3 separate regions of the Homo sapiens genome follow, and regions 2 and 3 are each linked to region 1. The links come from fine-mapping of genetic effects on gene expression. A gene starts in region 1. Each other region holds a variant in brackets. All regions are shown on one strand. Distances are from middle to middle.

Region 1 (4,246 bases):
TCCCTGGATAAACAACTAAGTTAACTACCTCTAATTTTACATAAAGAAGAAGAGGATTGTTACAAACATACACTTTGAGTTCAAAGGTATTCACAAGGTAAGAGCCAGAACCTTGCTCACAATTCATCACCTCAGTACCTCTACCAGTGCCTGGTACAGAAGACTCAAATGCTTGTTTAAGCAATAAAAAGCCTATCCATTACAGTTTATCTCAGTAGAATCAAACAGTGCTAGGGCTGTTTGATAATACCACTACCTTGAAATGCTAATATTAATTAGGAGGAAATTAAAAGTAAGTAGAAAGAGGGGAACCACCTGTGCAAAACAACAACCTAACCCCAGAGGAATCTACTGGTTAATTACCCAAATGACACAAAACCACTTCAGCGATATGCAGAAGTGTTGTTTGGCACAATGCGATATATATCATGATCAAATCCAATAAACAACGCCGTTGCAAAAAGCAAAGGAATTTGCCCTTAATATTCATAGGCTGCACTAATGCTCCCTTTTTGGAACACACAACAAAAAGCATAAGGCAATCTCAATCTCTTTCCTCTGAACCATTCAAGAACTCAGCGGATTTGGGGAATTGGGTTTGCTTCTCTACAATGTTTTTTAAAATCCTAAATTAGGTGTAACTTACTCTCATCGTTTGTCTTAAGTAATACAAAACAGCACAATACAAAGACAGCGGCTCATATCCACTCTTGGTTATAGGATGTTATAAATCCCTGAAAGGAACCGCTAAAGTAAAACAAAACCCAGCAAGTTAATATCACATTTTTATCGCCAACCAAAAACAAACGATCAAACTTCCACCAGGAAAAGCATCTTTTTATATGGGATAATGCTTGCATAAATGTCACCAATATTAGTTTGCTTACAGTTAAAGCTCAGAGACAGGGTTTCATATGGCTTTTTTAGTCAAACTCATCCATTGAAACAAATTTTTTTAAAAAAATGCAAATGTCTGAATGTCAATATTCTTTCCTGTCTATCTTCCATGAAGCATTTTTCCATGCTAACACTAGAGCATCCTTCGGTGTAATTCCACAAGCAGATTCAAATTCCCTTCAATACCATAAATAAGCCCTATTAAAAAGCCTTTAAACCACAAAAAAAGTGCAACAGCGGTTTGCAACTGTGTGGTTAGTTCTGCCTGTTGGTAGCGATTAGAACAAGCCATGAGTCGAGGGTGCTCAGAACCGAGTAAAAGGGACCCCGGCCGCTTTCTCCCCAAGAGGCAACAATAAAAGCATCCTCCTCTCGCCCCAATACTTCGCAGGAAAGTGGCCCCATTCCCGGGACCCAGTCGACCGCAGGAAAAAAGCACGGCCAGCCTCACTTACCTTATAGACGTCCCCGTAGGTGCCGCTGCCGACCCTCTGGACGAGTTCGTAGTCCTGCTGCGGGTTCCGCCTCAGGATGTCCGCGGCAGGCCGCAGCGGGGCCTCCATCTTCACTTAGGGCCCGGCCCCCGCCAGCTCACCCCGCGGCTCCCGGATTCCCGCTAACAAGCACGAACGGCGCCGCTTCCCAACATGGAGCCTCCGCCCGCAGCTCCGTCTGCACGAGGGACGAGCAAAGGCTGGTTGGCGTCGCAGGCTACGACCCCCAGCGGCCCGCGCCCTCGCGGCCCGGCCCCTTCCCTTCCGTCCCGCCAGGGGCCGTGGAAGAGAAAGGGGCCTGGAAGGGCCCCCGGCGCCCCGTATCCCCGTTCGGTCTGCGGCCCTTCCCCCTCCCCGGCCGCCCGCGAACTGCCCGACGAGGCCTCCCCGCCAGCCGGGGCCCAGGGCCGGCTCCGTACCTAATGGGGGCGGCCCCGTCTTTGTTGAGCGCGGAGCCCGGGACCTACTTCCTAGACCGCACCCGCGTCCTCCTCCCGCGCGCCGGCCGGCAGCTCCGGGTTTGCCGTCGCCGCCGCCGCCACTCAGCCGCTGCACGGCGCGTCCTCTCGGGGGCGGCGGAGGCGCGTACAGTCGCCGCCGCCGCCGCCGCCGCACCACGTTCCCCACCCGGGGCTGCGTCACCGGGAGACACGTTCCCAGCCAGCATGGGTCGGCGCCCAGCGGCCCGCCCGAGCACTCCGGCCGCAGAACCAGAGTGCCGCCCTGAGGCCTGCTGAGAACACAACACCCTCCCGACCGCGCCACCGCGCCCCCCTAGCCGGGCGCGTCCTTGCAGGGCCTGGGCTGTCTCCCTCCCACTCTCAGAAATAAGGCACACGCCTGGGCATTCGTGGGCCAACGGGCCTTGGCTAAACCGTCCCCACATTTGTCAGGTAGGCCTGTAGGGTGACGGGTAGAGGAAGAAGGGCGATGGGAACGTAGCCCTCCAAGTTAAACACGGAAAAGGTACGTTAAGGGCACCGGGCCAGAAGTAACCTGGCAGCGGGGCGCCGGGGAAGGAGGTGGGGGAGTGCCAGGTTAACTAAGTCCCGGCACACCCTACTGCACCTTCCTGTTTTGCAAACCGATCCCGGTGGTACCAGTTTGAGGCTGCACTGCACACCTGCACAACCTGCCTTCTACTTAGTTCTTCTGAGACATTTCTGAAAGTCTGAATTCCTAGGACTGCTCAATGACCTTTGTCCCTGTTGGGCACACGCAGTGTCTCATCGCTGGTATTGCACCTTTAATGAGACCAGGAGTTCCGCAAAAGTAAAACAAAGGGGTCACAGACTGGTTCTGGTTCTACCACTTCCTCAGTATGTGCTCTGGGACAAAACAGCATATTTGGCAACATCTCGGTGTCCTTATCTGCAGCTTGAAGAGGGTAAGATTTTGCATCTGACACCCAGGAAAGTGTTTATAAAGCGTTTTACAGGATAGTAAGGGGGGTTATCGAATATAAGAGGTCTTAAAATACTTAACAATGCACAGCATATATGGAACAGGAGTTCGGGGAAGTAATTTGGCTGATATTTCACAAGCTGTTTTGCAGTTTCAGTTCCAGTCTTGCTCTGAAGGTAGAAATTAAGTTGCCAGTGTTACATTATACTGGCTAAGTTATTTCTAGAGCCTCATAGAGAATTTGAACAGAAAAGCCAGATAACACTCAGCCACTGCATTTAGTGACTGAAACATCATAAAAGAGCAAGTTGGAGATGTTGGCTTGTGGCTTTGAACATCCAATTTTTAATTCTGCTCTTGAGAATTAAAATACTCCTTATTGTTGATAATTGTATAATGTATAATAAGGAGTAATTGACAATACTCCTTATTGTTGATAATTGTATAATGTAGAAATTAAATTCGCACCTTAACAGGACAGGGCATATATGTATTTTCTTGTGCTCCACACACAAAGGGCACTTATTTGGGGAACATAAGTAAGCCCAGACTTACATGCTCCATGGACAAAGCCTATGTGTTTGCTGCATTGAAAAAATTGTTGAAGAACAGTTCCTTCTTTCAAAGATTCTTGGCACTTGTTTTGGTGGGCACATACTTTTGGCTTCGATGACTCAAAATCTCTTCAAATGTTCTATTGGTATCTTAGCACTTGTTTACTGTCATAGATTCATTTGAGATTTTTTTCCTCTGGCCATATAAGCACTGATCCTTTATCTAGTCTGAAATATATTTATTCTTACATGTTTACACTTGCGTTACTCCAGGGAATTTCAGGCAGCACACAGAAAACACTTACTATAAAACAAGATAAAAATAAGTGGGCAAACTAGTATGACGTTAAAGAGAAGGAAAATACGAAACCAGAACAGTGTGACAAATCGGCCAACCAGAGGATTTTATAGTGTTTTTGAGATCAAGAGTAACCAATTGATCAAGAAGAGGCATATATTTTCCTAATGCAAAGACTTCCAAAAATTTTATTTAATGAGCCTTCTTCATAAAGTAGAAACTGAATGCCCAGTTTGAGACGAGGACAAATATCCTGACAATCCTTTAAGCATGTTATTCTTGAAATACAGCATTTAAAATGAATTAGGCAGTGAAATGTTTGAGGTCATAGGCTTCAACAAGACCCTGGAGTGCGGATATTTTATGTTGCCAGTAATGGCAGATCCATATGCTTTGACCATCAACCTAGAGGCAGATAGCATGGAAAAAGTCAAGACTCTATGTGGTGGTTAAAAAGTCGAGACTCTATGTGTCTGCTATAATCATTATTTTACTTGTACTGCAATTCATGCAAAGAGGAAAACATTTGTTTTATACTAACTCCAAAAGAATCTTAAGGATTTTTAAAATACTGGTTGAGTTAATTTTAACAAGATCAG
Region 2 (4,246 bases), 120 kb before region 1:
GCACCCTGGCAGGTACTCCATGATCAACAGAAATCTCTGGATTCTCTTGTGTCTTTTATTCATTGTAAGATAATCATGGTGGTAACTAATCCAGGAAGACTTAGCTTTAAGAAACATGACCAGGATAAAGTCAGATACCCAAAATCAAATGTCACATTTACAGTGTGCTAAATATTACACTTAGCAAAATTACTGAGGAAAGAATATGTGGTTGAATATCATGATGATTTAATGAACCATTTCACTCAAATGCGGTGAGTGGTTTTGCTTTTTTTAAGCTTCACCAAGTGGTTGTTTATGGTATACAGGACATCTGGTGTTTTTAGCAGTCCAGCATCCATTTGAAGGGAGCATTTATCTGATAACCAATTAAGCTGAATACATTTTCACATATTTATTGATTACTTGGATGCTATCTTTTGTGGAATGCCTGCTCGAAATCTTTTGCTCTTTTTTCTACCGGGTTGTCCGCCTTTTCCTTATTGATTGTAGTTCTTAATGTCTTCTGGGAGATCTTCTGTGGCTATATGTAATACAAGCCTCTTTTTCCATTCTGTGGCTTGTCTTCATTTTTATAAAATGAAGATTTTCTCTACTCGTCTTGAGTAGAGAAAGTATTTTACCAACTTTTATTTATTTATTTATTTTTTGAGACGGAGCCTCACTCTTGTTGCCCGGGCTGGAGTGCAGTGGCGCGATCTTGGCTCACTGCAACCTCCACCTCCCAGGTTCAAGCAATTATCCTGCCTCAGCCTCCTGAATAGCTGGGATTACAGGTGTCCACCACCACGCCCAGCTAATTTTTGTAGTTTTCGTAGAGACGGGGTTTCACCATGTTGGCCAGGCTGGTCTTGAACTCCTGACCTCAAGTGATCTGCCCACCTCGGCCTCCCAAAGTGCTGGGATTACAGGTGTGAGCCGCCATACCAACCTTTTTATAGTCAAAACTTAATGTTCTGTTCAAAAAAATCTTTGCAGACCTCAAGTTCATGAAGATATTTTCTTTTAAAAATGCTATAGTTGGTATCTCAATGTGGTTTTGATTTGCATTTCTCTAATGACCAGCGATGATGAGCTTTTTTTCATGTTTGTTGGCTGCATAAATGTCTTCTTTTGAGAACTGTCTGTTCCTATCCTTTGCCCACTTTTTGATGGGGTTGTTTTTTTCTTGCAAATTTAACTTCTTTGTAGATCTGGATATTAGCCCTTTGTCAGATGGATAGATTGCAATAATTTTCTCCCATTCTGTAGATTGCCTGTTCACTCTGATGGTAGTTTCTTTTGCTGTGCAGAAGCTCTTTAGTTTAATTGGATCCCATTTGTCAGTTTTGGCTTCTGTTGCCATTGCCCTTGGTGTTTTAGTCATGAAGTCTTTGCCCACGCCTATGTCCTGAATGGTATTGTCTAGGTTTTCTTCTAGGGTTTTTATGGTTTTAGGTCTAACATGTAAGTCTTTAATCCATCTTCAGTTAATTTTTGTATAAGGTGTAAGGAAGGGATCCAGTTTCAGCTTTCTACATATGGCTAGCCAGTTTTCCCAGCACCATTTATTAAATAGGGAGTCCTTTCCCCATTTAGACCAGTTAGAATGGCGATCATTAAAAAATCAGGAAACAACAGATGCTGGAGAGGATGTGGAGAAATAGGAACACTTTTACACTGTTGGTGGGAGTGTAAATTAGTTCAACCACTGTGGAAGTCAGTGTAGCGAATCCTGAAGGATCTAGAACCAGAAATACCATTTGACCCAGCAATCCCATTACTGAATATATACCCAAAGGAATTAGAAAAAAAATTTAAAAGCCCCATGCTAAGTCCACCAATATGTGACATACTGAAAGGAACAGTTAAAGAATGAAAACATACCTATGCCCTTAGTGAACTTCTTGGTGAAAAATAAATAAGTCAACTTTTTTTGTTTTTCTTGAGTTACTGCTATGAGCGGGAAACTAATCCACATTATGTCCTTTAATCCTCCTAACAACCAATGAAGGGGCCATTATTTCCAATCAACAGAGAAAAAGATGGAGGCCTAGACAGGTTGAATAAGTTGTCTAAGGTAAGTGCTAAGTGGTTTGGCTAGTAGGTAACAATTGAATGTTACACTGAAATGTACAATCCATATGTGCTGTAGAAATTCTGAGAAACAGAAAACGATTTGGATTTGGATTAAGTGGTCAGAGCTGTCATAGAAAAGTTATGGCTTGAACTGAGTATCATTAAGGTAAAGGATTTAAGGTTTGATAAAATAAATCAGAACTGTAGGATGGAAGAGCCATTATGAGCCCAGCAATGAAACTGGAGTGATCATGGCCTCTATGTGGCCAGTATCCCAGGGTGCTTGGCAGAATAGTGGGAGAGAAGGCTGGAGAGGAGGCTTAGCCAAAGAAAAGAAGTTTGATGAAACTGCTTTTTCTCACAAGACCTTATGGGATTTACTTCACCTAGCTTTTTGTCTCCAGCTACTTTTGCCTCCTTCCACATGACGCATACATTAGCTACGCTCAA[T/C]TGATATTTATTGAATGCCTACTGTGTACAAAGTACAGTGTAAGAAACTGGCTTTGTCACACTGTTCTGGTCATGCAGGGGTTCATGCTTTTATTTAAAGTTACATTTTTCTTTAACATGAAAAAAATCAAATGTATGCATGCACATAAAGAATCAAATAGACCTGTAAAAGTTTGTTATCACAAAGCATGCCCTTCCATCTCTCTCCTCAAAAACAACTTTTCATTATTTTGGCAGATTATATTATCCCCATGCCACGAAATAATGTTCTTGATTAAAAAAACTTCCTGGCCGGGCGCAGTGGCTCACACCTGTAATCCCAGCACTTTGGGAGGCTGAGGCGGGCGGATCACAAAGTCAGGAGATCGAGACCATCCTGGCTAACATGGTGAAACCCCATCTCTACTAAAAATACAAAAAAATTAGCTGGGCATTGTGGCGGGTGCCTGTAGTCCCAGCTACTCGGGAGGCTGAGGCAGGAGAATGGCGTGAACCAGGAGGCGGAGCTCGCAGTGAGCCGAGATCGCGCCACTGCACTCCAGCCTGGGCGACAGAGCAAAAGACTCCGTCTCAAAAAAAAAAAAAAAAAAAAAAAACCCAAAGCCTCCTAAGTGAAATTTTGTATCCTTTAACCAACATCTCCCCATCCCCAAACTAAGATCCCCCAGCACAGCTCCAGGCCCTGGTAACCACACTTCTACTCTCTACTTCCATGAGTTCTGCTTTTTCAGATTCCACATGTCAGTGAAATCATGTGGTATTTGTTGGTCAGTGCCTTGCTTATTTCACTTAACATGATGTCCTCTAGGTTTATCCATGTAGTCACAAATGACAGGATTTCCTTCTCTTTTTCAAAGCTGAATGGTATTCCATTGTGTGTATATACCCTATTTTTTTTTTTTTATCCATTCATCCACTGATGGACACTTAGGTTGATTTATTTGGTTACTGTGAATAATGCTGTGATGAACTTGGGTGCGCAGGTAACTCTTCAACATACTTATTTCATTTCCTTTGGACACATACCCAGTAGTGGGATTGCTGGATCACAGAGTTCTATTTTTAATTTTTTTTGACGACCCTCCATACTGTTTTCCTTAATTGCTGCACTAATTTATATTCCTACCAACAGTGTACAAGGGTTTCCTTCTCCAGCATTTTTTTTTTAGACAGTGCCTTGATCTGGTGTCTAGGCAGGAGTACAGTGGTGCGACCATAGCTCACTGCAGCCTCTAACTCCCAGGCTCAAAGGATCCTCCCACTTCAGCCCCCCAAGTAGCTGGGACTGCAGGCATGCCCACCACACCCAGGTAATTTTTCTTAAATTTTTTTTTTTTTTTTTAATAGAGACAGGGTCTTGCTATGTTTGCCCAGGCTGGTCTCGAATTCCTGGCCTCAAGCGATCCTCCCGCCTCAGCCCCACAAAGCACTGGGATTACAGGCATATGCCACCACAGCCTCTTTCATTTTTTTGATAATAACAGTGTGAGGTGATATCTCATTAATTTGCATTTCCCTGATTAGTGACATTGAGTATTTTTTCATGTATCTGTTGGCCATTTGTTTTTTTTTAGACGGAGTCTTGCTCTGTTGCCAGGCTGGAGTGCAATGGCACAATCTTGGCTTACTGTAACCTCTGCCTCCCAGGTTCAAGCGATCCTCCTGCCTCAGCCTCCCGAGTAGCTGGGACTACAGGCGTGCGGCCATCACGCCCAGCTAATTTGTTTGTATTTTTAGT
Region 3 (4,246 bases), 80 kb after region 1:
TCAAGTTTTGCCTCTAGAAGGCTTACAGTCTATAAATAATGCACCATAACATTATGGTTTGGAGTTATCTATTTCTTTTTCCGTCTAGTTCCCCTTCTAGCAATAGAACTCCTCTCTCCAATTCCCTCTGGTTCAGGTGAACCTGATGACATTCACCCCTTACATACAGGTGACAGTTCAGACCATCCCATCCCTCTGACCACAGTGATTATTTCTGGACTGGGCATATGATCAAATTGGGCCCATTCCTGGAAATTTCCTGACATAGCTGTCTTGAAAAACTGACTTGCACTGGTGTTGCTAAGCTAGCAGGATGTGAATCTGGATCTCAGTGGTCATCTTGGCCGTCATGTAGAGAGGACTGTTCAGAGAGAGAAAGAGCCTTAATGTCACTTAAGTGTCCCAAATCCTTCTGAAATCCACCTACACCGCTGACCTTTCCAATTACAGAACCAATTATCTACTTTTTTGCTTAAACTTGTTGGAATTGGATTTCATTACTTACAACTGAAAGAAGTCCACCAACTTCTAGTGTTATAATAGGGGAAGTTCAGGATGATATGGGAACACATAGAAATAGTACATATATAAATTGTCTTGTAATTTCCATATGCATTTGTAGTATCTTTCAATGTTTATTACATTTTAAACATATTTACTCAAACTGCTTTTGGTTTTATTTCAAAGTTATGACATGTAAAACGTAGAAGGAAGGGAGGAGTGGTAAGAGGAAATCTGAGAATGCTGATTTTCTTATGGCAGGGAATTAAAGGTGAAACATATATTTAAAAAGCATGACTCCAAACCAATAAGTAAAGACAAAAGACCTGATCAGCCTCTTCACAAAAAAGAATAAACACAAAGGGCCAACAAACATATGACAATGTGCTTAATTTCATTAATCATCAGGGAAATGCATATTGAACACAATGGGCTAGGCTACTAAACCACACCCTCCAGAATGTTTAAAATTAAAAAGACAGAGAATATCAAGCATTGGTGAGGATGTGTAGCATCAGGAACCCTCTAAGACTGCTGGTAAGGTTATAAATTGGTACTTTGGAAAATGGACAATATCAACCAGTCCTGAACATGTGCACACTCTCTACCCAGTAATTCTGCTTTAGTTATAAACGCAAAAGAAAGAAGACACAGAAAGAAGAGCAGAAGACATATGAATGTTCATAGCAGCACTATTCATGCCAGCCAAGAACTAGAGACACTGAAATGCCCATCTACAGAATGAATTAATCATTATTCACATAATGGGAAATTGCGCAGTAATGACTATGAATTATGAACAATTATGCAATAATATAATTAATCTCACAAATATAATGTTGAGTGACAGAAGCTAGACCAAAAGAATATATCATGTATCATGTATGATTCCACTTACGCAAATTATAAAAACAGGCAAAACGAACTGATGCTGTTAAAAGTCAGGCACGTGGTTACCCTTGAGCAAGGGGTCATGACTGGAGGGTGGCAGGAGGAGGGGCTTATGGAGTGCTGGATATTCTCTGTTTCTTGATCTAGGTGCTAGTTACACAATGTGTTCAGTTTGTGAAAATTCATTAAGTTATATACTTAATGTGCAGTTTTCTGTATGTGGACTATATTCCATTCAAAGGTATAAAAAGTTAAACACATGACTCCCAGCTCAATGTTTTCCAAAATCTTTGTTCTTAATTTCAAGTGAATTTATTAGAACTTCTAATGGTAAAAAAATCATTTACTTGAAATTCAGCAGTATTTTAAATGTCATCTCATCTTCCTTTTAGTCAGTTAATTTCAAGTGCATTTTAATACTTTTTATTTAAAATGCCACATACAAAACAGTTCTACTTTTTATAAAACTGTTTTTCTCCTTTTTCTTTCTTTTAGCCCTCTTCCATTTGTGTATGTACCTAGGGAGACGACT[G/A]GATGATGTTCACCAAATGTTAACTATCGTTAAATCCAGGAGATGGGATGTGGGGTGCATTTTTAAATTTTCTCTCTGGACTCTGCTATCTAGTTTGAACTTTTTATGATGCGCATACATACATATCATTTCTATAAAAACATTAAAACAATTTCTTTATAAAAGAAAAGCTGATCTTATATCTTATGCCTGCATTCAGCCATACCTATCAGAAAGGAAGATTCCTAGGAACCTATTCTACACAAAATCTGATTATAGTGACATAGCTCCATTCAGGCAGTTTGGGAGTCATCTCTGTCATCTCTCAGTGGGGTGCGTTCATGCTGGCATTTTGTACACAGCCTTCTGTTCACATTTAATGGAAATATGTAGGATGATCTCATAGGGGAGAGACTGCCCAGACACTTTCAAAGGTTTTATGTTTGATTTTTAATTCAGCAATGTGGGAAAGAACGATATTCAAATGACAGTGATATTATAACTGGTTTCCATATAAAGCAAAGGGAGGCACCTTAAAGTCCTCATATCAATCCTTTCTTATTATTTTTTAGAGTCTGATATTTCTTGTTCGAGACTGGAGTTTCCCATACGAATTTTCATATGGAGCCGATGGTGGTGCCAAATTCTTGGAAAAACGCCTCAAGGTTTGTTAGATATTTAGGTGCATGAAATTTCACTAATAATCTGGAATTATTTCTGTTGGATCATTTGGTGAATAGATACTCAGTAGCCACTAGCCGCAATCTCATTTGTTATCGATATTAATGACACAGGTGAAGAATTCTTTGTATATATCTATAAAACAATAAGTTACTCCTAAAGATAAAACTTTTACTTTGAAGAATTAAATCACTTCAAGACTGACAGTGCAAATATCAAGATTCAGGTTTTAATAGAGGTTTCAAAGCCAGTGTAACAAATATCTAATTTTGAAATCCCTGGAGTCAATCTTAGAGCACAGAATGTAAAATTAGAAGACCTTCCACTTTCTGTGTCGTGCTGGTTCAATACTGTACAAATTGTTACACTGAGCAGATATCACCAAAAGTGCCTACTGGGAAATCAGGGGAGAAAGATCAAAATTTACAAAAATGTTCCTTGAAAATTGGGATCTCTGAACTTATTAGGTTTACAGTCATAAAAGTTTGTCTGTATTAAAAACTATCAAATATGTATTTACATAAAGTGGGAGGTGAGGGTGATTTAGCTTGTAAGTAAACACCCAACTATTCAGATTCCATTCTAGAATTTAAATGTACACTTACCAGGTGATAGGAGGCTGCCTTGAATATCTACTAAAAAGAAAGTAGAAATATCCTACTTTCTCTTTGTGGCTCCTACGAGTGCTTTGAATTAAAATTTGAATTTGTAGAAACTAGCCAGATTAAAACCCCACTAATTTGTATTAAAAAATGGGAAGGTCCATGTGAGTTAGCATAAGGGTAGACACTTGTTAATTAAAACTATGCCATGCGTTTTCTATACTTAGACACGGCTCTGTGTGGGCAAACCCACCCAAGACTTTCTTCTTTCTTTAGTAGCAGCCCTGTCGTGTCATTTTCATCATTGTGGGACCAAACAGACATAGCAAATATAAGATGCCACAGAATTCCTTTGCATAATTTGTGATGAAAGTAGTTTAAACTTCAGAATGATTTACTGCAGGTCTCAGGGAACCAGCATGAAGAACTACAGAACGTCAGAAAACACATCCATTCCTGTTTCACCAACATTTCCTGTTTTCTGCTACCTCATCCTGGCTTAAAAGTAGCTACCAATCCAAACTTTGATGGAAAATTGAAAGGTTTGTGTCTTTTAATGAATATGTTTGCATCACTTAGTCTGATTATAAAAATGTCATTTTATCTATTGGGCTTATGGCTGATAGTTTAGTTTATCCACTGATAGGAGGCTGATGATTAGAAATTGTCAGGAGAATAGGGCATCCTGGGCTGGTGCTCCTCCTTGGTGAACTGTGGGATTCTATGGGCGCTGGATGTATACACTGCCTGCAAAAATAGGCCGGATCCTGAGTTCACCCAGAAGGCAGTAACCCTCACCTTCTTATCTCTGTGCACTGAGAAGTGCTCCTTAATATTTTTAGGCTTAATTTTCCTTATCTACATGAAAAAGGAAAACAGATGTCTATAGTATTGGAATTCTGTATTAAGTTATGTAATTAGAGATTGAAAGAAATGCTCTTTAAAACTGCTCCTAAAGAATTTAATTATAAATTATTAAAAACTTCACTAAAAATGAAATCTTGTGTGGAAGAAGAAGAGGACCAGTGTCTTAAAAGAAAAGCACTAGAGTGTTTTTCAA

Direction of the effects. Alleles are on the strand shown, and positions count from the first base shown. SD is a standard deviation of normalised expression in the study named. Not every link is listed here.
As copies of T replace C in region 2, the expression in monocytes after LPS of the gene that starts at base 1,980 in region 1 goes up (moderate effect, 0.43 SD a copy in Fairfax 2014).

The links. PIP is the estimated chance that this variant, and not a neighbour inherited with it, causes the effect.
Region 2: its variant is the best candidate, but not a certain one, in a credible set for the expression of MAP4K5 in monocytes after LPS (Fairfax 2014, PIP 0.60).
Region 3: its variant is the best candidate, but not a certain one, in a credible set for the expression of MAP4K5 in whole blood (TOPMed, PIP 0.58).

What each region holds. Positions count from the first base shown.
Region 1 is chr14:50,530,590-50,534,835 of GRCh38, forward strand. MAP4K5 (mitogen-activated protein kinase kinase kinase kinase 5) reads right to left here and starts at 1,980. Exons shown (of 33, transcript NM_006575.6): 1 at 1,859-1,980; 2 at 1,353-1,569. The coding sequence starts at 1,460. It also overlaps a transcript of ATL1 not described here. RefSeq lists a silencer at 1,674-2,303.
Region 2 is chr14:50,411,251-50,415,496 of GRCh38, forward strand. No RefSeq gene overlaps it. Among named protein-coding and RNA genes, the nearest start is that of CDKL1, 16 kb to the left of the region's middle. The variant T/C (reference allele first, on the strand shown) is at 2,509.
Region 3 is chr14:50,610,784-50,615,029 of GRCh38, forward strand. ATL1 (atlastin GTPase 1) reads left to right here. Exons shown (of 14, transcript NM_015915.5): 7 at 2,476-2,568; 8 at 3,590-3,728. Among named protein-coding and RNA genes, the nearest start is that of ATL1, 53 kb to the left of the region's middle. The variant G/A (reference allele first, on the strand shown) is at 1,925.